Linked DNA regions of Homo sapiens: regions 2, 3, 4, 5, 6 and 7 are each reported to be linked to region 1. The links are microRNA targets in miRTarBase. Many come from high-throughput screens and were not tested one by one. Region 1 holds a microRNA gene; each other region holds the end of a gene's coding sequence.
The links. The annotated mature microRNA hsa-miR-4747-5p reads AGGGAAGGAGGCUUGGUCUUAG and lies in region 1 at 2,131-2,152, opposite strand. An mRNA with a match to its seed (bases 2 to 7 or 8) in the 3' UTR can be bound and repressed. Matches are read on the target gene's strand: a 7mer-m8 pairs with bases 2 to 8, a 7mer-A1 pairs with bases 2 to 7 and ends in A, and an 8mer does both.

Region 2: the mRNA of RREB1 is a reported target of hsa-miR-4747-5p. Seed matches in the 3' UTR shown: 7mer-A1 at 1,278-1,284, 7mer-m8 at 1,851-1,857, 7mer-m8 at 1,886-1,892 and 7mer-m8 at 2,543-2,549.
Region 3: the mRNA of GSN is a reported target of hsa-miR-4747-5p. Seed matches in the 3' UTR shown: 7mer-m8 at 2,794-2,800.
Region 4: the mRNA of MYH2 is a reported target of hsa-miR-4747-5p. The part of its 3' UTR that is shown has no 7-base or 8-base seed match.
Region 5: miRTarBase lists SYCE1L as a target of hsa-miR-4747-5p. Seed matches in the 3' UTR shown: 7mer-m8 at 459-465.
Region 6: miRTarBase lists SNX19 as a target of hsa-miR-4747-5p. Seed matches in the 3' UTR shown: 7mer-A1 at 2,762-2,768, 7mer-m8 at 962-968 and 7mer-m8 at 73-79.
Region 7: miRTarBase lists DDX11 as a target of hsa-miR-4747-5p. Seed matches in the 3' UTR shown: 7mer-m8 at 1,063-1,069.

What each region holds. Positions count from the first base shown.
Region 1 is chr19:4,931,839-4,934,838 of GRCh38, reverse strand. It overlaps MIR4747 (microRNA 4747), which reads right to left and starts at 2,152; the gene lies at 2,099-2,152. It overlaps UHRF1 (ubiquitin like with PHD and ring finger domains 1), which reads right to left. Exons shown (of 17, transcript NM_001048201.3): 5 at 1,883-2,098.
Region 2 is chr6:7,248,747-7,251,840 of GRCh38, forward strand. It overlaps RREB1 (ras responsive element binding protein 1), which reads left to right. Exons shown (of 13, transcript NM_001003699.4): 13 at 1-3,094. The coding sequence ends at 222. Among named protein-coding and RNA genes, the nearest start is that of SSR1, 63 kb to the right of the region's middle.
Region 3 is chr9:121,332,359-121,335,452 of GRCh38, reverse strand. It overlaps GSN (gelsolin), which reads right to left. Exons shown (of 18, transcript NM_198252.3): 18 at 2,611-3,019. The coding sequence ends at 2,850. Among named protein-coding and RNA genes, the nearest start is that of STOM, 36 kb to the left of the region's middle.
Region 4 is chr17:10,518,597-10,521,690 of GRCh38, forward strand. It overlaps MYH2 (myosin heavy chain 2), which reads right to left. Exons shown (of 40, transcript NM_017534.6): 40 at 2,552-2,836. The coding sequence ends at 2,684. The region is part of intron 2 of MYHAS (myosin heavy chain gene cluster antisense RNA); the gene reads left to right. Among named protein-coding and RNA genes, the nearest start is that of MYH1, 1.6 kb to the left of the region's middle.
Region 5 is chr16:77,212,499-77,215,592 of GRCh38, forward strand. SYCE1L (synaptonemal complex central element protein 1 like) reads left to right here. Exons shown (of 11, transcript NM_001129979.3): 10 at 76-148; 11 at 359-717. The coding sequence ends at 433. Among named protein-coding and RNA genes, the nearest start is that of SYCE1L, 15 kb to the left of the region's middle. RefSeq lists an enhancer at 1-713 and silencers at 53-382, 493-582, 613-662.
Region 6 is chr11:130,875,637-130,878,730 of GRCh38, forward strand. SNX19 (sorting nexin 19) reads right to left here. Exons shown (of 11, transcript NM_014758.3): 11 at 1-2,918. The coding sequence ends at 2,786. Among named protein-coding and RNA genes, the nearest start is that of LINC02551, 15 kb to the left of the region's middle.
Region 7 is chr12:31,103,273-31,106,366 of GRCh38, forward strand. DDX11 (DEAD/H-box helicase 11) reads left to right here. Exons shown (of 27, transcript NM_030653.4): 25 at 45-123; 26 at 305-459; 27 at 535-1,527. The coding sequence ends at 564. Among named protein-coding and RNA genes, the nearest start is that of DDX11, 31 kb to the left of the region's middle. RefSeq lists an enhancer at 763-1,262.

The DNA.
Region 1 (3,000 bases):
CAGTGAGGAGGCTCCCACAGCCCCAGCCACTCCCCTCCATCACCCGCAGCTCACTGACCTCCCTACCGGGCCACAGATGCACCATAAATGTCCCAGCCCAGGACCTCTGCGTGCTTGCTGTACCTGTACTTGGAACGCCGTTGCCAAGATGCTCGTGTTTATAGACAACACGTCACGTACTATCACTCGGCCACAAAAAGGAGGGAAATTCCGACCAGGCTACAGCCTGATGCACCTCAAGGACATCACACTCAGTGACGTCAGTGAACAGATGCAAAGGACAAATCCTGTGTGATCCCATTCCTAGGAGGTCCCCCGAGTTGTCAGATTCACAGAGATGGAAAGTAGGATGCAGAGGTGTCAGGGGCTAGGGAGTGAGTGTTTCATGGAGTCAGAGTTTCAGTTTGGGAAGAGGACAAAGTGCTGGAGATGGTTGCGTAACAACGTAAATGCGTTTAATGCCACCGAACTGTGCGCTTAAACATGGTTCCAATGGTAAATTTTTGGCCGGGCGCAGTGGCTCATGCCTGTAATCCCAGCACTGTGGGAGGCTGAGGCGGGCGAATCACTTGAGGTCAGGAGTTCGAGACCAGCCTGGCCAACATGGTGAAACCCAGACTCTACTAAATATATATATATATACAAAAATTAGCCAGACGTGGTGGCGGGCGCCTGTAATCCCAACTACTTGGGAGGCTGAGGCAGGAGAATCACCTGAACCTGGAAGGCGGAGGCTGCAGTGAGCCAAGATCATGCCACTATACCCCAGCCTGGGCGACAGAGGGAGACTCTGTCTTTTAAAAAAAAAAAAAAGGTAAATTTTCTGTTACATACATTTTATCACACACACACACACACACACACACGCACACACACACACAAAGAGGCAAGGGAGAAAGAACAGGCTTTGCAAAATGATTCTGCAAATGGCCAAATAGGAAGGATTTTCAGCTTTGTAGGCCGCATAGTCTCTGTTGCAACTACACAACTCTGCTCTTATAACACAAAAGCAACCACAGGTAATAAGATAAAAATGGGTGTGACCACGTCCCAATAAAACTATTAGTCAAAGCCGGCAGCGGACCACAGCAGGCCTGTGGACTGCAGTTTGCCAACTCCTAAGCGGTGTGGTTTGGCGTGTATGTTTATGAACAGAATGTCCCTGGAAAGTTGGTAACAGTGATGTCGCCAAAAAGGGGAACTGGGTGACCAGGCAGAGGAGGGAGAACCTTCATGTGTGGTCTTGGGTGCTTTCTATTTTGACCCTGTGAATGGGACCTATTCACCAAATTTGAAACAAACAAGAGAGAAAAAGAAAGCTTGAGGCCAGGCACGGTGGCTCACTGCCTGCAATCCCAGCACTTTGGGAGGCCGAGGCAGGCAGATCACGAGGTCAGGAGATCGAGACCATCCTGGTTAACGGTGAAACCCCGTCTCTACTAAAAATACAAAAAAATTAGCCAGGTGTGGTGGTAGACGCCTGTAGTCCCAGCTACTCGGGAGGCTGAGGCAGGAGAATGGCATGAACCCAGGAGGCAGAGCTTGCAGTGAACCGAGATCGAACCACTGCACTCCAGCCTGGGCAACAGAGCGATAAAAAAAACACCATGAGAAAAAGGAAGTTTGACAACTCTGCCTGTCAGGGCCTGGGGGTCAGAGACAGTTCCCTGGGCAGAGGCACTCAGGGGCACAAGGTGGTCGGTCTTAGAAAGATGCTCAGCAGTGAGCAGGAACAGACCCCAGAGGGGAGGCAGGAAGGCCAGGCCGGAGGCTAAGGGCCTCGCACACACAGCGCTGGCTGGACGGCTTCAAAGCCAGTCCGGGGGCCCCGGGAGGGGAGGAAAGGAGAGAGGAAGGGCTCGCCCCAGGACGCGAGGCTCACCCCAGCACCACGTTGGCGTAGAGTTCCCGCGCCGTCCTGGTCTCGCGCTTCCTGGAGATCTCCGCGTCGTACCAGAAGCCCCGCTCCTTGGGGTTGTCGGGGTTGTAGTTGAGCATGACCACCTGGCCCACCTCCAGGTCCTGCCACTTGATGATGGTGCGGGCGCGCGCTCGGACGTCCCTGGAGTTCATCTGGACCACGCCGTTCTCCGGGTAGCTGGGAGGAAAGCCCGGGCCTTAGACCCCGTGCTAAGACCAAGCCTCCTTCCCTCAATGGGAAACGAGCCGAGGTGGGACGGCCCCTCCCGACAGTGTGCAGAGGCCCCTCCCAACAGGCTTATATGCTGGTGTTGAGAACACACAGGTATATTAAGGCACATTCCAGGTACAAAATTGTTATGGGTTGCCCGTGTCCCCTGCAAAAAGAGATGTTCAAAGGCTGATCCCCAGTACCCACGAATAGGATTGTTTTTGGAAACAGGGTCTTTGTAGATAGAACCTTTGCAGATGAAATCATATTAAGATGAGATCACACTGCAGTAGGGTGGGCCCCAATCCAACAGGACTGGTGTCTTTAGAACAAGAGGAGAGGCCGGGCAAGGTGGCCCACGCCTGTAATCCCAGCACTTTGGGAGGCCGAAGCGGGAAGATCACCTGAGGTCAGGAGTTCAAGACCAGCCTGACCAACACGGTGAAACCCTGCCTCTACTAAAAATACAAAAATTAGCCAGGCATGGCCGGGCACGGTGGCTCATGCCTGTAATCCCAGCACTTTGGGAGGCTGAGGCAGGCAGATCATCTGAGGTCGGAAGTTGGAGACCAGCCAACATGGAGAAACCCCATCTCTACTAAAAATACAAAATTAGCCAGGCGTGGTGGCGCATGCCTGTAATCCCAGCTACTCGGGAGGCTGAGGCAGAATTGCTTGAACCCGGGAGGCAGAGGTTGCGGTGAGCCGAGATCGCGCCATTGACGCCAGCCTGGGCAACAAGAGTGAAACTCTGTCTCAAAAACAAAACAAAAACAAAAATTAGCTGGGCGCAGTGGTGCACGCCTGTAGTCCCAGCCACTTGGGAGGCTGAGGCAGGAGAATCGTTTGAACCCGGGAGATGGAGGGTG
Region 2 (3,094 bases), not on the chromosome of region 1:
ACCCGGAGCCGGAAGGAGGGCTTGGCCAGTGCCACCAAGGACTGCAGCCACAGGGAGGAGAAGGTCACGGCAGGGTGGCCGTCTGAGCCTGGCCAGGGTGACCTTAACCCAGAGAGCCCGGCGGCCCTGGGGCAGGACCTGCTGGAGCCGCGCAGCAAGAGGCCTGCCCACCCAATCCTGGCCACAGCTGATGGCGCCTCCCAGCTCGTGGGGATGGAGTGACAGCCTCAGTCCCCCTCAGCACAGACAAAAGCCAGCAGAGCAAAGCGTCTATACTTCATGGGGTTTCCTCAGTGCCCTTTGGCTGTTGAGGAGTGAGAGAGAGAGAGAGAGAGAGAGAGAGAGAGAGAGAGAGAGACAAGCAGGAGCGTGGCTGCTCGCTCAGTGCCATAGCCTTACCGCAGCCTGCGCGGGAGGCCACAGCCCGTGCCGATTCCAGTGCCTTAACTACTTACCGGATCCCTCCATATTATCATGGGTGTTGTATTTTTCCAAAATGACTTCTTAAACAAAACAAATATTATAATGAATTGTCTGGAGAGGACCTCTTCATTTGAGCATTAGCGTTATTTTGTATTGGTGTGTGTGAGCTTGTTCTTGTGAATCTGTGATAGCACCGTTTGTTCTGTGAGCTGGAAACAGAAGGAAAAAACATACCCTTGGGTACCCATAGCCAATAACTGGAAGAAAATGATGTGAATTTCATGTAAATGACCAGAGGAAAGATGGATAAGATGATAATTTCTTAAATAGACATTTTCCTTTTTTCTTTGTGCTTCATGGTGGAGCTGTCATCTGGTCCTTGGTATTACAGGATGTGGTTGATGAAGGTTTCCAATATGGTTTCAGGCCAAAACCAGGGAAGATTCTAGCTTCAGCCTCATGTCCATTTCCAGTCTGTCAGCATTAGACATGGTCACTGTTCAAGTTTCAAGACATCCATTCTTAACTATAGAGAAGAGTTACTCCCCTGGCGTCTTAACCTATGGAAAACATGCACGGATAGGATATATTTGATTGCCTCCTCTTCCCTTTCAGTATATGTATTATTAATATTATTATTATTATTATTATTATTAGTTCATCAGTTTGCTGTTCTCTGCAGTGAGCAGAATCAAATGGGCAATATTTGTCCTGGGAGACCTGTGCCGCACCCAGGTCCCCGTGTTAACGTGTGCCTGCGGTTGTGGTTGGCACCCTCGGGTGGTAGCTCTTCTACTGTAATGAGACAAGCCTTTCTTCTGTCACTGCAGAATTTAGAAGGGGCCGTGAGCAGTCTTCCCAAGCATGGTCCAGGAGCAGCTCAGAGAGGGTGGAGTGAGGATGCATGCATCCAGGGAACAGGCATCAAGAAGCCAGGGCCGTGCCTGGAGCACTGCAGAGATGACTTTGGAGAAAGCAAAGCAGTGACCCAGTGACCAGGCACATTACTCGTGAGCGAGGTATTCCCAGTCTTCCTGCTAAGCCTAATCCAAGCCTTACCCAGCTGTGCTACTGTCATTTGCAAAGCAAGGAAATACTACTACTGGTAATAAAACTACACATGCAAGATGTCAGATAAGAAATAGGTTTATATTTACCTTCCTGCGATGTGGGGTTGGTGCTTGAAGATAAATGTGCTGTTTCTAGTTTCTTAAATAGCCCACACCCCTGGATGCAAAAAGGCAGGGTTATTTTTACCCATGAGCATCCTGTGCAGGCAATAGACTTCCCTCACTGTCTCCGCCTGCAGGGAGGAGAATGTACCCCACTGCACCTGAGCTCCTGGTCCCTCAGCCAAGACCTCAGGGGTCCCCAGCCAGCCTGCTGCTGGGGACCCCTGTGCTTGCTGCAGTGTATGGAGCCTCTTGCCTTCCCCTGGGGAGGCACCCCTGTACCCCAGCTTCCTTCCCCTGGCCTTTTCTGGCCCCAGTGCTCCTCCTTTACATAGACTTGTTCACACAGAAACGTGCACGCCCCCTTTTCTCCGCCACTTCACCAGTTTCTGAAATCCAACCTCCCAGACTTCACAGGAAGATAGATATTCTTGAGATAATGAAAAGTGATATCTTCGCATACGAAAGGAAAAAAGGTTGAGGTATATATGATTTTTAACTGTATTAGGGGTGTATGAACCAGTTTAAAAACGAGGTTTTATTTACTGTAGAGATGAATGCAAATCAGAACCAATGATCCCTTGGCCTACTTAGTTAAAACCAGTTCATACATCCCTTAGGGTTTTTATTATTATTATTATTATTATTACAGTTGTTATTGTTGTTTTTGTTGTTATTATTATTTGGGGTTTCTTGTGTTTTTTCTTTGCGACTCTCCACACTAAACTTGCAATATTGTGGGGAGAAGCTGTGACTAAACTCTACGCTGCGGTGAGATGTAGCAGTAATCAGCTCCCAGCGACGTGTGTAGCTGGGGCTGCCGCTCGCAATAATCACTATTGATTTAAAGCTTTACTTAGCCTTGATCTGTACCCTCGTAGTCAATAAGGTCTTGCCACATTTTATTAGTGAGGTGGAGAAACGTATTATTTGTTTGTTGTTTTTGCCCTTCCCCCACCCCCCAATATTAAACTGTGAAATTTGTGATTTGTTTAAACTCTGGGTGAATCATAGCTTAGTTTGCATGTCCAGCTAATTTGTTTCTATACATTTTGTTTGATTCTCTTTCTCCTTCTCTCAGGGCTTTTACAAAAAAATATATATATATGGATCTTCTGAAAAGTTTTTTGAGGTGCAAGTTTTTTCTCTTTTTTTTTTTTTTTTTTTTTTCTCATTGATTAATGGACATGATGCTGAGATTCAATCACTACATGAAACACCTGGCTGTGAAAACAAAACAACCCAGAGGGCTGTGTTCCAAGCAGCGCTGGGGAAGCTACGTAACAGTCGGATGCCAGTTTTGGAAGATTCACCATGCGTTCTGACCCTCTGTTCGTCTCTTTCCTCTCCTCTTTCTTCAAGAAGGAAATTGATCCTAGTGATTTCAGCCCATGCATTAAACAGGAAACAATAATAAATTTGTAGAATTCATATTTTTCTAAAGGGAACTTAAAAACTGCTGCTACATGTTATGTACAAAACTGGTTTATGCCACATGA
Region 3 (3,094 bases), not on the chromosome of region 1:
GAAGGCAGCATCTCAGTGGCCCCAGGCTATTTTCTTTCTCAGAGCATTGCACAACTCTCTTTTGAGGCCACAGCCATACCCTTGAATGCTGGTATAAACTGAAATGAAGAATTAATGGGCAGGTCTACCTGAAATTTTACCTCCCACTAATTTCTAGGAAGTAAGCTAGCTCTGTCTAGACAGGCCTCTACCTGCCTCTCGTGAAAGCCCTAGAAGCTTTGGGTGGTAAATGCCACTTCTGTACCAGGACTTTGTCAAGTTGATTGCTTTGACCATGAAAGCAAACCTTTGGGGGTAGGCAAGGCAAGCGTTATGGGATCAAGTCCAAACCCTTGGTATGGCATTCAAAGCCCCAGCCTGCTTCTCAGCTCAGAGGCCTGCCACTCCAGGCTGCTGTCTGTCCCTGAGCACGCTGTTCCCCTCACAGCCCCCTGCCTGTACTAGCTGCACCCTCTGCCTGAAAGTGACTTCATCTTCCCTCCACGTTTCATCCAGAAAATTTCTTCTCCACTACCCTCGACACTTCTGCGATGAATCAGAATCTCTGGAGGAATGGCCCTTGGGGAATCCATGCTTTTAAAAAGTTCCCTGGGCAATTTGGGTGATCAGCCAGCTTTGGAGACAACAGTGTAAACACACACACACACACACACACACACACACACACACACACACACACAAACACACAGCCTGCCCATCATTTAAGCCCTCATGCTGGTTTCTGTTCTTTTACAGTCATATGCTTGCGAGCTTTCACATCATAACTCAATGGGGATGGAGTGGTGGTGGGAGGTGACACAGAACAAGACGGGGGGAAAACAAGGTGAGAAGAGACCAAAAGGACAGAGCGGGAGGACTGGGGAATGTCCTCCAGCAGGTTTCTTGGACTGGTTTAGTCTCCCAGGAGAAAAGATTATGAAACAACATAGAAATATCCAAGAGGGACTGTGTGACATGCTGAGCATGAGTGGAGAGTCAGGACCCAGGGGACCAAGAAGGCACAGAAGAGTCCCTTTCCCATACCCTGAAGACCGCAAACTTTGAGAGCATCCGGGGGCAGCTCTTGTGCTGGCAGCTGCTGCAGTTATTTCTCCACATAGCTTTGGGGCAGCAGAATGAATCTGTGGGAAACAGAGGCAGCAGGGAAGGTCCAAGCAGCTGCTACAGGATGTGGCAGCTATGAGGATGCACCCTGCCCGCTTTCTACTGCAGGGCATATAATTGATAAGGGCTCCGACTGCTGGCTTTGAACTTCATCCCACATGTGTCCCAAGGCCAGGCCTCCCAAAGACTGAGTGCAGGGGGCAGATAAGGCACGCCTGCTTACAAGAGACACACAATTCCTTTGCTGGCTGACTTTGACTCTGGCTCAAGAACACTTTGAATTGAACAGATGCTCATGTTCATAGCAGCCTTATGCACAATAGCCAAAAGGCACAAATAACAAAGAGTCCATTGATGGCTGAATAAACCAGATGTGGTATAGACATGCAGTAGAATATTACTCAGCCACAAAAAGGAGTGAAAAGTTGATATATGCTACAACACAGATGAGTCTTGAAAACATTCTGCTAAGTGAAATAAGCCACACACAGAGGACAAATGTTGTATGATTCCACTTATATGAGGTCCCTGGAATAGTCAAATTCTGAGACTGAAAGTAAAATACAGGTTACCAGGGGCTGGCGAATAGGGAAGAATGGGGAATTGGTATTTAATGGGCAGAGCATTTATATTGGGGATTATCAAAAAGTTTTGGGTACAGAGAGTGGTGATGGCTACATAACACTGTATATGCAATGTTACTGAAATACATACAAGTGGTTAAAATAAATACTGTGTTACGTACAGTTTGCCACAATAAAAAACAACAAAAATGGGACTATACCATTAAATTTAAAAAGAACACTGAATTTGGCTTTGGGACTGCCGACAAGCTTTGCCAAATCTTCCTGGATTAAATAAATGACCACTAAGACACTTCCGCACAACCTTCTCTCCCTTTTTTCTCCACCTAGGGTCAGACTTGCGTCGAGGGTCTGATGGCTCTCCCAGTCTTCCTTGGTTCCCCACCTATTTCCTTTCTTTTGAGACAGAATCTCGCTCTGTCACCCAGGCTGGAGTGCAATGGTGCAATCTCAGCTCACTGCAACATCCGCCTCCTGGGTTCAAGAGATTCTCCTGTCTCAGCCTCCCGAGTAGGTGGGATTACAGGCATGTGCCACCACGCCTGGCTAATTTTTTATTTTTAGTAGAGGCAGGCTTTCACCATGTTGGCCAGGCTGGTCTCGAACTCCTGATCTCAGGTGATCTGCCTGCCTCGGTCTCCCAAAGTGTCGGGATTACATGTGTGAGCCACCGTACCCGGCCCCTCCTTATTTCCTTTAGCATAGGTATCCCCCAGGACAATCTACACACCTCTCAACTCACTGTGGCATCGCCTCTCAGGGCACCAGGATTCACGCACAGGGTGGATGTAGCCTTTCTACTAGTTTACAGGCAAATGCTAGGCACCTCTCTGGCCATTCTCAGAATTACCAGGGACACAGGCAGAGAAGACGCCGGCTCTCACTGTCAGATGGGCACAAGGAAACGAGCCACACTAGAGTACACACTTCAAAATGTTTTTATTGGATTTAATTTCCCAAACACTGACATTTTAGACAATTTTGCAAGGACTCTGAATTTTTGCAGGGCTATTTTTGGATACTGTAAAAAAAAAAAAAAGAAACAACACACACACACACACACACTCATAGCAGAGCTGCTCTGCTCGCTCTAAGGCCTCTTTGAGGGAAGGACAGTTCCAAAAGGCACTGACCGGTGACATGGGTGGGCCCTGCCCCTCCTCAGGCAGCCAGCTCAGCCATGGCCCTGTCCAAGGGGTCCACAGACCAGTAATCATCATCCCAGCCAAGGAACCAGCCCACAAAGGAGGGAGGCTCAAAGCCTTGCTTCACCACGGTGATGGGCGTCCGCCGATCCCGATTGGCTGGGTCCGTCTCGATGTACCGCTTAGCTGCAGACACACGTGCAAGAAAAGGAAACCCCAGGAATTCTTAGTGCCTCCCACACCAGGGAGAGGGTGACTCAG
Region 4 (3,094 bases), not on the chromosome of region 1:
ACCTCCTCCTCTTTCTTAAAACATATTTGGCAAAACATGTTTTTGGCATTGAAGGTCTCCAAGCCTAATTCCCCTCATATTAAAGATGTTTGGATATAATTAGAAATATTTCCTCTCATATTGGGTTAAGTATATGAATCAATCTCCTATAAATAATTTGAGTCGTTGGCAATCTTAAAGTTGTTGGCCTTTGGAATGTAAGGTGTTGTTTCAAAGACAGCTAAGTTCTGGAATCCCTGGACTTTGTTGCCTACTGCTCTTCTGTTTCACAGAGTCGCCTGTGTGAAGTCTTTTCAACTGCCTGCGCAGTTACAGATAGTGTACTCGGGAGGAAAACTTCTGCTCTTTAGCAGAGGGTTATAAAAACGTTGCTTTCTCTCAAAAAGATTTCCTTTTTTTTTTTTTTTTTTTTTTTGCAATTTATTGTGCTTTTTCAAAGTTGCTTGGAAATTTAATTTTGAAACTTGCTTCATGAAGAGCAGCCAAAGATAGCTTCTTTTGTTTCCTTCAATCAGTCGCCTCTTATTCATTGTCAAATCATTCCACCGGCACTTCGGACTTGCTCCGAAATTGCATTGCCTTCCAAACAGAGATGTCCTGCTTCTCTCATTTTTTTTTGGTGCCCAAGTTGCTTGTGAAATCTTGTTTCCTCTATGAAACTCAACATAAGAAAATATTGGAAACAGGGTATTTCTCTGTCTAAATATGCAGCATCGATGATTTTTCCTCTATCAGCAGTCCATGGGATATATTTAGTATTTTGCTTACAAACAATACCTGAATATTGTTTTCTATTTTAATTTTTTAAAAAAGTTTATTTTACTGTCTTTGTGGCCTCACGTCTCTGTCTGTCAGCATTGTCTGGCTAGGACTGGGACAACATTTGCTTAATATACCTGGTTTTGCACCCACATCTGTATTATTGTACTTATATCTCAATTGATTTAATGGCTATAGCTTGCCTTATGAAAGGAGATATCTGGATATACTAGTTGTAAAGGTCACATAGTTTTATTACCATAAGGGATCATCTAATTCATCTTTCTCATTTTACTAATAAAGCAACTGAGATCCAAAAAATAGAAGAGAATCTCCACAAATCACACAGCAGTTTAGACTCTGGTCATCTGACTTGCGGTCCAGCGTACTCACTTGTGACACTCTTCTACCTGGGGTAGATTAAAGCCATCAGGAAGGGTATTGCAGGGATGTGCGTCTGAGAGGGCCTTTCCTAGCCATCTATTAGCCTGCTTTGTTACCACAGGTACCTAATTTTACTTTCTTACATGTCTGTTTCTTTACTAGGCACCTGCAAAATGTGGGTAATGATTTTCAGGAAGATAAAACATTTTAATAATGCTCTCAATAGGATCTGATGGGAATCTTCAGACAACCTTTTGTCTTGCTCTGGATAAACTTTTCAATAAGTAGGAAGTAAGATATTGTTTTTGTTTATTACTGCCACGTTATAAAGCACTTAAGCAATTCCACGTGATACAGGAACAAAGTGAAAGAGGGGCTTATGCAGCGAGAAGAGCAATTCCACACCCTTTCTAAGGCCAGTGCGACAGTGTGAATCCAACTTACCTGTTAAACTACCATGTCTAATTTACATCATTTTCACACAGTGCCATTTAGACCAAGATACTCTTGCTTTCTATTTGATGGGAAGTTACCATTTAGCTCTTCCTTTATTCTGTCGAGGAAGGTTATATTTTTGGCTATGCATCTCAGCTGCATCCAGTTTAAAAATCTTGATCCTCTAGGAAAACGTCTCTGAGTGGTCCAGATTGCTATGATATCTACTTTTTGTACCAAACTCATACCCATCATTATGTGTGTTGAATATAGATTTGAATAACCTACTTTGAGATCATATTTTCTTGACACTTTTAGTCATTTATTTTGGCTCTTTATATGATTATCTGGGAGACCATAAAGATTGGAAACATAAGCTAATAGCTCATGGATACTACATTATAACGTAAAAATAATATTCTCTATGTCTCCAGATTTGATAGACACCCTGTAGTTTTCATAGGGAGAAGAGTCATATTTAATTTAATTTTGAAACTTGCTTCGTGAAGAACAAGGTCGTGTCAAACCCATTACCCAGTGCACCTACTGTGGGCATATGGTACATTGGAATTGATAATGTAAATATCCATGGGCTAATTAAGAATATTTTGTATTTATATTCTTGATAACAGTTATTCAACAAAGAGAATTAATGATACAATTCAGTTTGAATCCCCTATGTGAGAATATAGCTAGTACTATCCTGAAAAAGGTTCATGTTAGGGGAAGCAGGAGCTTTCTAAGATTTTACTGTACTCAGATATCAGGAAAGGTTAGAAAGAAATAAAATAGACTTCCAAATTTCTGTTCATTAGAACAGTCTTTCTGGATAAGTGACATCTTTACAGCCTTAAAGTGTTGCCGTAGACCCCCAAAAAAGTCACCAATTGAATGTGATTGTTTGACAACTCTGGTGACTATTCAAACTTTGACATGGCTTCAGGAAAGAGAAAAGACAAGACCAGTCTAAGGATATTGTTTGCAAACTACCCTATGCTTTATTTCCTTTGCAACAGGGTAGAATACACAATAATTACAGAGGGAAATGACCAAAGATGTCACATTTTGTGCCTGTCTTCAGTCATTCCATGGCATCAGGACATGATCACTCTTCACTTATGACTTTTGTGTGAACCTCCCGGCTCTTCACCCGCAGTTTGTTCACCTGGGACTCAGCAATGTCAGCCCGTTCCTCGGCCTCCTCCAGCTCATGCTGGAGCTTGCGGAATTTAGCTAGATTGGTGTTGGATTGTTCCTCCTGAGAATAAAAATGGAATTGTAAGGAACTCATACTTGCATCTTTCTAGACTCTTTAGACCTAATAGAAGAAAGGACTTGGCATCTATGGAGAAGCAACATCTAGGGATTATCATTGAAATTAATTTTAAGATTTGTTTATTGATGTCATATATATATATATATATATACACACACACATACATACATACGTATCTCACATTCCTATTTTGGCAACCAAAACACATAAAATATATGTACCACAAGTAGAATAAGAAGA
Region 5 (3,094 bases), not on the chromosome of region 1:
GCGTCTCGGTGGCTTCCTCCTCGTCCCCTGGACTCTCGCTCTCTTCCTCCTGTCTCCTCGGCCCCTTCTCCGCAGGCTGAAGGCGGAGCTGGAGATATTCGGGGAGCAGGTCCGGAGCGCCCCCGAGGTCGGGGCCGGCGAGGGAGAGGTAGGGAGCCCGAGGAAGGGAGGCGGGGCGGGCAGGGACCGAGTCAGGAGAGAGCGGGCGGGGGTCCTGGGAGCGGCCCCCGAGAGTGGGGTCTGTGGGGAGCAGGGCGGCCCCGGGGACAGAGGAAGCCGCGGTGGAGGCCTAGGGCAGACGCGGGCGGACGCGAGGAGCGTAGGAACCTGGTCCGCAGCCTCACCCAGCCCCCGGCAGGCCGGACCTGAGCTCCCCCGCGCTCGCGACGAGGAGGATCCCGAGCCGCCGGTGGCTGCCCCTGACGCCCTCTAGGCCAGCAGGACCCGCCCGTTCCCGACCTTCCCTCGAGACCCGCCAAGAAATAAAGGCGATGATTTCCGACCATGCTCGCGTTCTCCGCGGAGTCTGTGCTACACCGTGGAGCGGGGCGGGGCGTGCTGGGATCTCGAGGCGGGGCCTCTGCCGGACCCCTCCCACCAGTCGAGCCCCGGGCGCCGTACAGAGGCTGGGTAAATGCTCCTGAACTCAGAGAGAGTAAGTGGGTGTCAGTATCCCCCGCCCCACGGCCTCATCTCGAGTTCCCAAACCATCTATGTTGTCAACAGGGGCCGGAGGGCAGGTGTTAACCCATTCCGGTCCTCGGGGCCTGTGCGTCTCCGGTGGTCTCAGGAAACCCAGAGTCTCTGCAAGACCCGCAGACTCGCGCTGGCTCTGGGACATGCCCGCCCATCTGAGCTCCCCTCACAAATTGGGTTCTAGCCAAGGCTGCCTCTCCACCCGTCTCAAACATTCCAAAACACGTGTCCCCTCGGGGCCTTCGCCCTACTGGTCCTTCTCTGGGGTCACATCCCCCAGGCAACCTCAGATCTGTTAAATGTGTCCGCCACTCTGGAGGCCGGCATTTGGGACCCAAATCCAAAGGCACCCAGCAGCAGGCTGCGGCCATTGACTGAGCATGTACTGACTAAGCAGGCATTTGCCGATTGCCTGCTGGGTACCAGGCACTGTTCTAAGCACTGGATTTTAAACAGCGCGGTCAGCGACGGCCTCACCTAGGAAGTGGTATCTGAGCGGAGAAGCGAGGTAGAGAAGCGAGGGGGTGAGCCCTGTGGGTGTCTGGGGAAAGGTGGGCCTGGCAGAAGACATGCCTCATGCCAAGGCGGGAGGTGAGGCTGCACTTCGCTGTGTTTGAGGAGACGTCTGGAGAAGGCCGGCGTGGTAGAGTGGAATGAGGTAGAGTGGGATGGGAGACGACACTGGAGAGTTGCCAAGGACCAGTCAAGTTGGACACTATCTAATGTGTGTAGAAGAGGACCTGGCACACAGTCAGTATTCAGTGAATGCCAGCTCTCACATATTGTTGGGATGATTCACTATTCCCAGTCCCTAGAGAATGGGAACTGAGATGTGTGACTCACTTAGATCAGAGGCTTCTGTCCATTAAGTGATCAGTAAGTGGTTCATATGATTTATTATTATTATTCCCAGGCTACAGATGAGGAACACTAAGGTGTGTATATCTCTCAGAACAGAGATTTTTATAACATAAATGCTCAATAAATGGTATCTATCATTTATTATTCTCACTGCTATTCTTGCTGTTATTCCCAATTTAGCGATGAGGAAAATTGAGATAGTGAATCTGTACAGTAAGCCCTCAATAAACGTTGGGTCTCACGTTTGTTGCCATTATTATCCCAAGTCCACAGATGAGGCCCAGGGAGCTTTAGTCCCCGAGTCACCACTCGCATCCGGGCAGAGCTGACTCCAGGCCCAGGCTGTGGTCCCCTGCCCCACTGACACCACCTACTTGCTAAGGCCAGTCTCCAGGAATCTCTAAGGAACTTCAGTATCCTCTTTGTCATCCTCTCTGTGTCACACAAATGGGGTCAGCCTGGATATTCTGCCGATTTACCACTGGGCACCTAGGATTCGAGTCCTGGTTTCCCTGTTCACCAGCTGGATGACCTCAGGCAAATTGCTTAATGTCTCTAAAACGCAGTGACCAGCTGGGTGCTGTGGCTCACGCCTGTAATCCCAGCACTCTGGGAGGCTGAGGCGGGTGGATCACGAGGTCAGGAGTTCAAGACCAGCCTTGCCAAGATGGTGACACCCCTTGGTTTGGTGGTGGCAGGTGTCTGGAATCCTAGCTACTCAGGAGGCTGTGGCAGAGAATTGCTTGAACCCGGAAGGCGGAGGTTGCAGTGAGCCAAGATGGCGCCACTACACTCCAGCCTGGGCGACAGAGCGAGACTTTGGCTTTTGATTTGCCCTGTGTTCTCCTGACTCAACTGACCTTCCTGGCAGGGCTACTTCTCCTTTCATTGAAATAATTGACAGCTGCCTGGGAAGTCTTCACTCACTTCCTGTAACAGCTTTTCTCAGGGCTTGCATTCAATTACCATAATTCTCAAGCTTCTTGGCTTGTAGTTCAGGTTCAAATGTGAATGAGCCTGGGGGAGCTCAGTGTTGCCAAAAGGCGGAAGGACATTCTTTTTATTATTATTATTATTTTTATTTATTTATTTATTTATTTTTGAGACGGAGTCTCGCTCTGTCGCCCAGGCTGGAGTGCAGTGGCGCCATCTCGGCTCACTGCAAGCTCCGGCTCCCAGGTTCACGCCATTGTCCTGCCTCAGCCTCCAGAGTAGCTGGGACTACAGGTGCCCGCTACCACACCCGGCTAATGTTTTTCTGTATTTTTAGTAGAGACGGGGTTTTACCGTGTTATCCAGGATGGTCTCGATCTCCTGCCCTCGTGATCCGCCCGCCTCGGCCTCCCAGAATGCTGGGATTACAGGCGTGAGCAACCGCACCCGGCCAGGACATTCTTGAAAAAAGTAAGCCAGAAAGAAACCCACTGAAAAACAGAGGAGTCAGAGGAGGGGCCCGAAGAGATGCAAACATAGCACATCCTGAGTAGCAAGCTAGACAAGGCATGGAAGAGAGAGTGGCCAAAGTGACTGCAGTAGA
Region 6 (3,094 bases), not on the chromosome of region 1:
TGAACAATGAGAACACTTGGACACAGGAAGGTGAACATCACACACTGGGGCCTGTTGTGAGGTCGGGGGAGGGGGAAGGGATAGCATCAGGAGATATACCTAATGTAAATGACGAGTTAACGGGTGCAGCACACCAACACGGCACATGTATACATATGCAACAAACCTGCATGTTGTGCACATGTTCCCTAGAACTTAATGTATAATAATAATAAAAATAAAATTTATACATGCTCCTAGGCTCAGATTTAGGAATTTATTTTCCATTTAGGTTTTATTAAGTCTAATCCAACAATGCAAAAATGAAACTGTGAGTTATATGTGATGAAAAAGTATAGCTTTCTTGAATTCAAATAAGCAATGGCAAAGATCACATTTAGAATTTGACAGAAAGAACACAGCATCCCTGCCTCGTCTTTTTTATAGATAGTAAGAAAAGGGAAAGTAGTCTTATTTCAAATATCAAAATTCTGACTTAAATGAATAAAATTTAGTCACGAGTAAATACAAAAAACAAGCAAACAATAAAACCTTCCTGGATCAGCACAGGCCCAATTCTTCCCTGCCTTTTATCACCCTGTCAGCTGGGAGTATCTTTTCTACCTGTGGCTCTCTACCAATTGTTACTCTCTTGTTGTCTGAACCTGCTAGCCAAACTTGGCAGGTCGTTTTCAAAGCCAGATGAGTTCTGATTGTTCCCTTGGCAATATCCATTATTTCCCTCCTGGGTAGAAGGAGGATCTGAGGACAGCTTATCTTTTTGGGGTACGTGGAGTAGAGGTGGGGACTCTTATATAATACGAAATAAAAATAAGTTCTTTGGGCTGGAAGTGTCAAAAGATTCCTTAGAATTTATAGCCACAGGGATTTCATGGTGTGTCTGATGTACTGATTTTGTGCCACATTTGAGCCAGAACTGGCAGCAGATTCAAAGCAACACAGGTGGCTAAGTACACATGAGGGGAAGGTAGGTATGGGGAGAGAAAAGTGGCATAAAACAAGGCTGTCCCCCTATGCTCATCGAGAATAGGATCTTAGCCCTCACTGAAGGAGCTTAATGATCAGCTCTAATACATTGGCTGGACTCCTGCAGGTACTCACGGAAAGTAGAGATGCTGAGCTACCTTTTCTTGTCAAAGTCTAGGGCTGGAGATGCTTCAAGAACTTTGGAGCCATAAAGTCACTGTAATGGTCAACTTTTAAGGCTAGAAGAGGCCATGAGACATCTCATTCATCTCCTTGCCTTTGGGCAAGAATTGCACACCTAAGCCTCCCGAATACATCAGACACAATTTAGGGTTAAAAGCCTCCAGAGGGGCAAAAAAGTAAAAAGATTTTACAACTTTCTTCCACAAACCACTTTAATTGTGTGCTCATCACCGACTTCAGAATCTAAGAGAACTTTGACACTTGTTTTTGACACCCCATTGCCTTCTCATCAGTCTAACTCCAAGACCTTCCTCCGAGTGGTAGGCTCTGGTAATTCAGCGAAAGCAAGGCGCTAACAGGCGAGTGTGAAGCCAAAGGGCTCCCAGTGACATCCTTGACATCTTTTTGCCAGCTATTCACATGCATTTAATATACAGCACTTCCCTGTGACTGTCTGCAGCCTTTTCTACCAGCAATTCCTCCTGATTTATCCTTCTCCAGCAATTCCCAGTTGCCTTGCCTTTCTAATAGATGTTGCAGTCTGACAAAACACCTTTGCCTTCATGCTGGTGTTGTTAAAGGACTGATTATAACCGTAAGGAATGGGAAATAAGAAGCTATTCCTTGTAAGTTTGCTAATCTTATCTGTTCAGAATAATAAAAGTTCTCTGTCAAAGACTTAGGAAGGGAGATTTCATCCCCCAGCCTTGCTAGTCCTACTCTTTGTGCATTCTTAAGACAGGAGGCAAGTGCTTTCCATTCTCCTTGGAAAAACTGAGGCTGAATATGCAGCTTGTCATGCAGTTTTGCTGAAGACAGAGAGAGGGTCAAAAATTCAAAAACTCAATTGCTCTAGGGCAGGGGGTTGGGAGCAAAGCCAATAAATAAAATGGGTGGTATAAATGCCTTTCAGGAAAGGGTGTGAAGGGTGGGGTGGATTTACCAGAAGCTTTGGCAGTCAGCTTTGAAGTCTTCTGGAAAGGAAAGTGTAGCCTCCCAGGCAAGCAGCCTCATGACATCTTCCATAAGGCTGATGTGTTGGGAAACAGCAACACATGAGCAAGAAGTTCCTTGAAAAATTTTCTTCCCTCCTTCTTCTTCTGGAACTGTTGGGAAACTAGATTAGACCCAGGAGTCTGGTTTTTGAGAATGGCCCTGAATGAATTTTTAGTTTCCGGGTAGGAACAGAGAGCTGAGAAGGTTGTTTTCTCCTCCAAGGAAATCTGGCCACAGTTTTTTTCCTGTTCTATCTAGAGCTTGTGTGCTGGTGGATTAAGCACATGTGTGCACAGGGCCAGGATTCTGGCAAACAATCTCAGGGAGGATGGCAAAAGGAGAAGCAAAAGGGGTTCATTCCTCTACCTCACAGCTTCTTTTCCCAAAGGAAACAGGATCTACTCACCAGCAACAATCCCAACATCACAAAAGGAACAGGGAAATAAACGTGCATACAACTGGGACACACAGACCCCTGTCACCTGCTACAAATGGAGCAGAAGTGGGAGAGAAGTGAGCCACCGAGAACCTAGGCCTTCTTAGCTGTAGCCTACTTGAAGAGGGCACGGGCTTCCTGACTGGTCTCTGGTGGCCGAGTAACTCTACTTCCCTGACCTGGGAAGAAGGCGTGAATAACCAGCTAAGAGGAGACACCCATCCTCTTAGAGTTGCCTGGGGTATCTGAGGCAGAGGTGGTAGCAGCAGACTCCTCAACAGAGGCACTGAGATCCAAGAATTCCAGGATGATGTCCCCAAGGCAGTAAATCAAATGCCTGAAACGAATGGACAAAAAACTTAGGGTCTGGCTCAATCAGGAAACACAAGATCCTGTTTATGACATTTATTTTCTCCTCCCCCATCACCGACACCCTAAACTTCAATAGCTTGATGAAACCTCTGCCATGAAATTAATGTTTTTTGAACTAATAAAGCCTCTGACCCTAATAAA
Region 7 (3,094 bases), not on the chromosome of region 1:
GCAGGCAGGGAACAGTCCTGATGGGTCTTCCCCTTCACTCCCAGCCCAGAGCCCCCGGCCAGGCACCCCCAGGGAAGGCTCTGGTGGAGAACCTGTGCATGAAGGCCGTCAACCAGTCCATAGGTGAGCCTGGCTGCCTCCAGCTGGGTGGACAGATGGGGGCTGGAGAAAGGGAGAACAGGAAAGAGGGGTTGCCTGCCCTGTTTCCTATATAAGTCTGAGGAAGGGGAGGGGGTCGCCGTGGGAATGTGCTGTAGGGGGGAGGCAGGTGTTGCTCGGAGCCCCAGCCTCTGTTCCTATGCAGGCAGGGCCATCAGGCACCAGAAGGATTTTGCCAGCGTAGTGCTCCTGGACCAGCGATATGCCCGGCCCCCTGTCCTGGCCAAGCTGCCGGCCTGGATCCGAGCCCGTGTGGAGGTCAAAGCTACCTTTGGCCCCGCCATTGCTGCTGTGCAGAAGGTCAGTCCTACCTTTTTCTTTCTGAGAGCCTCCCCACCCCGAGATCACATTTCTCACTGCCTTCTGTCTGCCCAGTTTCACCGGGAGAAGTCGGCCTCTTCCTGATGGGCAACCACACCACTGCCTGGCGCCGTGCCCTTCCTTTGTCCTGCCCGCTGGAGACAGTGTTTGTCGTGGGCGTGGTCTGCGGGGATCCTGTTACAAAGGTGAAACCCAGGAGGAGAGTGTGGAGTCCAGAGTGCTGCCAGGACCCAGGCACAGGCGTTAGCTCCCGTAGGAGAAAATGGGGGAATCCTGAATGAACAGTGGGTCCTGGCTGTCCTTGGGGCGTTCCAGGGCAGCTCCCCTCCTGGAATAGAATCTTTCTTTCCATCCTGCATGGCTGAGAGCCAGGCTTCCTTCCTGGTCTCCGCAGGAGGCTGTGGCAGCTGTGGCATCCACTGTGGCATCTCCGTCCTGCCCACCTTCTTAAGAGGCGAGATGGAGCAGGCCCATCTGCCTCTGCCCTTTCTAGCCAAGGTTATAGCTGCCCTGGACTGCTCACTCTCTGGTCTCAATTTAAAATGATCCATGGCCACAGGGCTCCTGCCCAGGGGCTTGTCACCTTCCCCTCCTCCTTCCTGAGTCACTCCTTCAGTAGAAGGCCCTGCTCCCTATCCTGTCCCACAGCCCTGCCTGGATTTGTATCCTTGGCTTCGTGCCAGTTCCTCCAAGTCTATGGCACCTCCCTCCCTCTCAACCACTTGAGCAAACTCCAAGACACCTTCTACCCCAACACCAGCAATTATGCCAAGGGCCGTTAGGCTCTCAACATGACTATAGAGACCCCGTGTCATCACGGAGACCTTTGTTCCTGTGGGAAAATATCCCTCCCACCTGCAACAGCTGCCCCTGCTGACTGCGCCTGTCTTCTCCCTCTGACCCCAGAGAAAGGGGCTGTGGTCAGCTGGGATCTTCTGCCACCATCAGGGACAAACGGGGGCAGGAGGAAAGTCACTGATGCCCAGATGTTTGCATCCTGCACAGCTATAGGTCCTTAAATAAAAGTGTGCTGTTGGTTTCTGCTGAGTTTTTTATTGATATGTGCTGCTGTTTTCTCTGGAAGCCTCTTTAGGGAATCGAGGAGCGCACTGGTGCAGGGGCTGGGTGGAGCCATCCTCCGATGGAGCACAGGCAGACGGAAGCCCCCACCCCAGCTGCGTGGCCTCAAGCCAGCCTCCCGCTCCCCGAAGGTGGTCTCCACACAGACCTGGGACAGTTTCATCCCCGCCCCTTCCAGGGCAGCAGGGCTGAGGATCCCATTCTGGCTGTGTCCACGTCCGGGCCATGGCTAGAGTCTGGGTTTAGGGGAGGAAGGCATGGCGGCGCCCGCTAGGATTTCCAGTTGTCCTCTTCTTCCTCTGCCTGTGGCTGCTGGGGGTTAGCAGAGACGGTTTGTTGTCTGACATACGGGCTCTCTCCTCCCGGCCCCTCACCAGCCCCAGAGGTGAAAAGGCTGGAGGGGAAAGGGTGAGTGAGGGAGGTCTGTGGGGAGCACTGGTTTCCCCAGGCCCCAGAGACTTAAACACAGGAAGAAAAAGGCAAGAGAGAATTAACGATGCCACAGCCCATGGCAGACAGCGGCCCTGCCTCCTACCCTTGCGTCTCAGGACCAGCTTGTTGAAGAGATCCCACATCAGTTCCCTGCCTTGGCTTACGGCTCTCACTGCAATAGGAAAGCCACGGAGTGGGGTGTGGGGTTCAGTCACATTTGACCCCCGGCTCCGTGTTCCTGTCCCCTGTAGTGTTTTTGTTATTAGACCCTTTTTTCTCCTTGGTTTAGGAATGGGGGCCCCAGGGCCACCCTTGTCCAGGCTCCCTCTACCGTAGAGGTGAGAATTCCAGGGAGCTACAATTTGAAAACCACTATTTTATGAGCCAAGTAGAACAAGAAATGACAACTATTAAAAAAAATAAGGGATTTCTGACCAGCTAACAACCCCACAGAAAATCCGCCAGGGATCCAGAAATGAGACTGAGGTGGCCTCAGAGAGCTCCCTCCTGAAGGGGATGCTGCTGCTGTCGTCCTGCCCGGCGCCTTGGACTGCAGTGGCCGGGGCCTGGGGTGGGGATGAGGGTGCACTGACCAGCACCGCAGCAGCTGGGGGAGGTTGGGGTGCTGTTAACGTGCCATCTTATAGGTAGGAAGTGGAAATGGGAGAAAGTGTGGGGTGCCTAGGGAAGGAGGTGACTGAGCAGGGAGCCTGGCTGCCATCCTAACACCCAGCTCACTGGGCTTGAGCGACTTGAGCCTGGTGCCAGGGCAGAGTGGGTGATGCTGGGGCCCAGGCTGGCACCATACTTGAGGTCTGCCAGGCAGGTCAGGTAGGATGGCACATCGACCTTGGGGGACTTGGCCCAGGTCTGGCATGTAGAAGTAGTTCTCTGGGACCCATGGGATTAGGTGGGGACATGTGAGAGGTGACAGGGACCTGCAGGAGCAGCTAGCGAGACCTCATGTGCACCCTGCACAGCTGTGGTGGCATAAGGGATTCAATAGAGCCTCTCCTAGAGAGGAGCCTGGCAGGGCCCCCAGCCCTTGCACCTGCCCCTCCCTCTCCACCTTCTGCTCCAGCTGCTCTCTCACTGATGGACA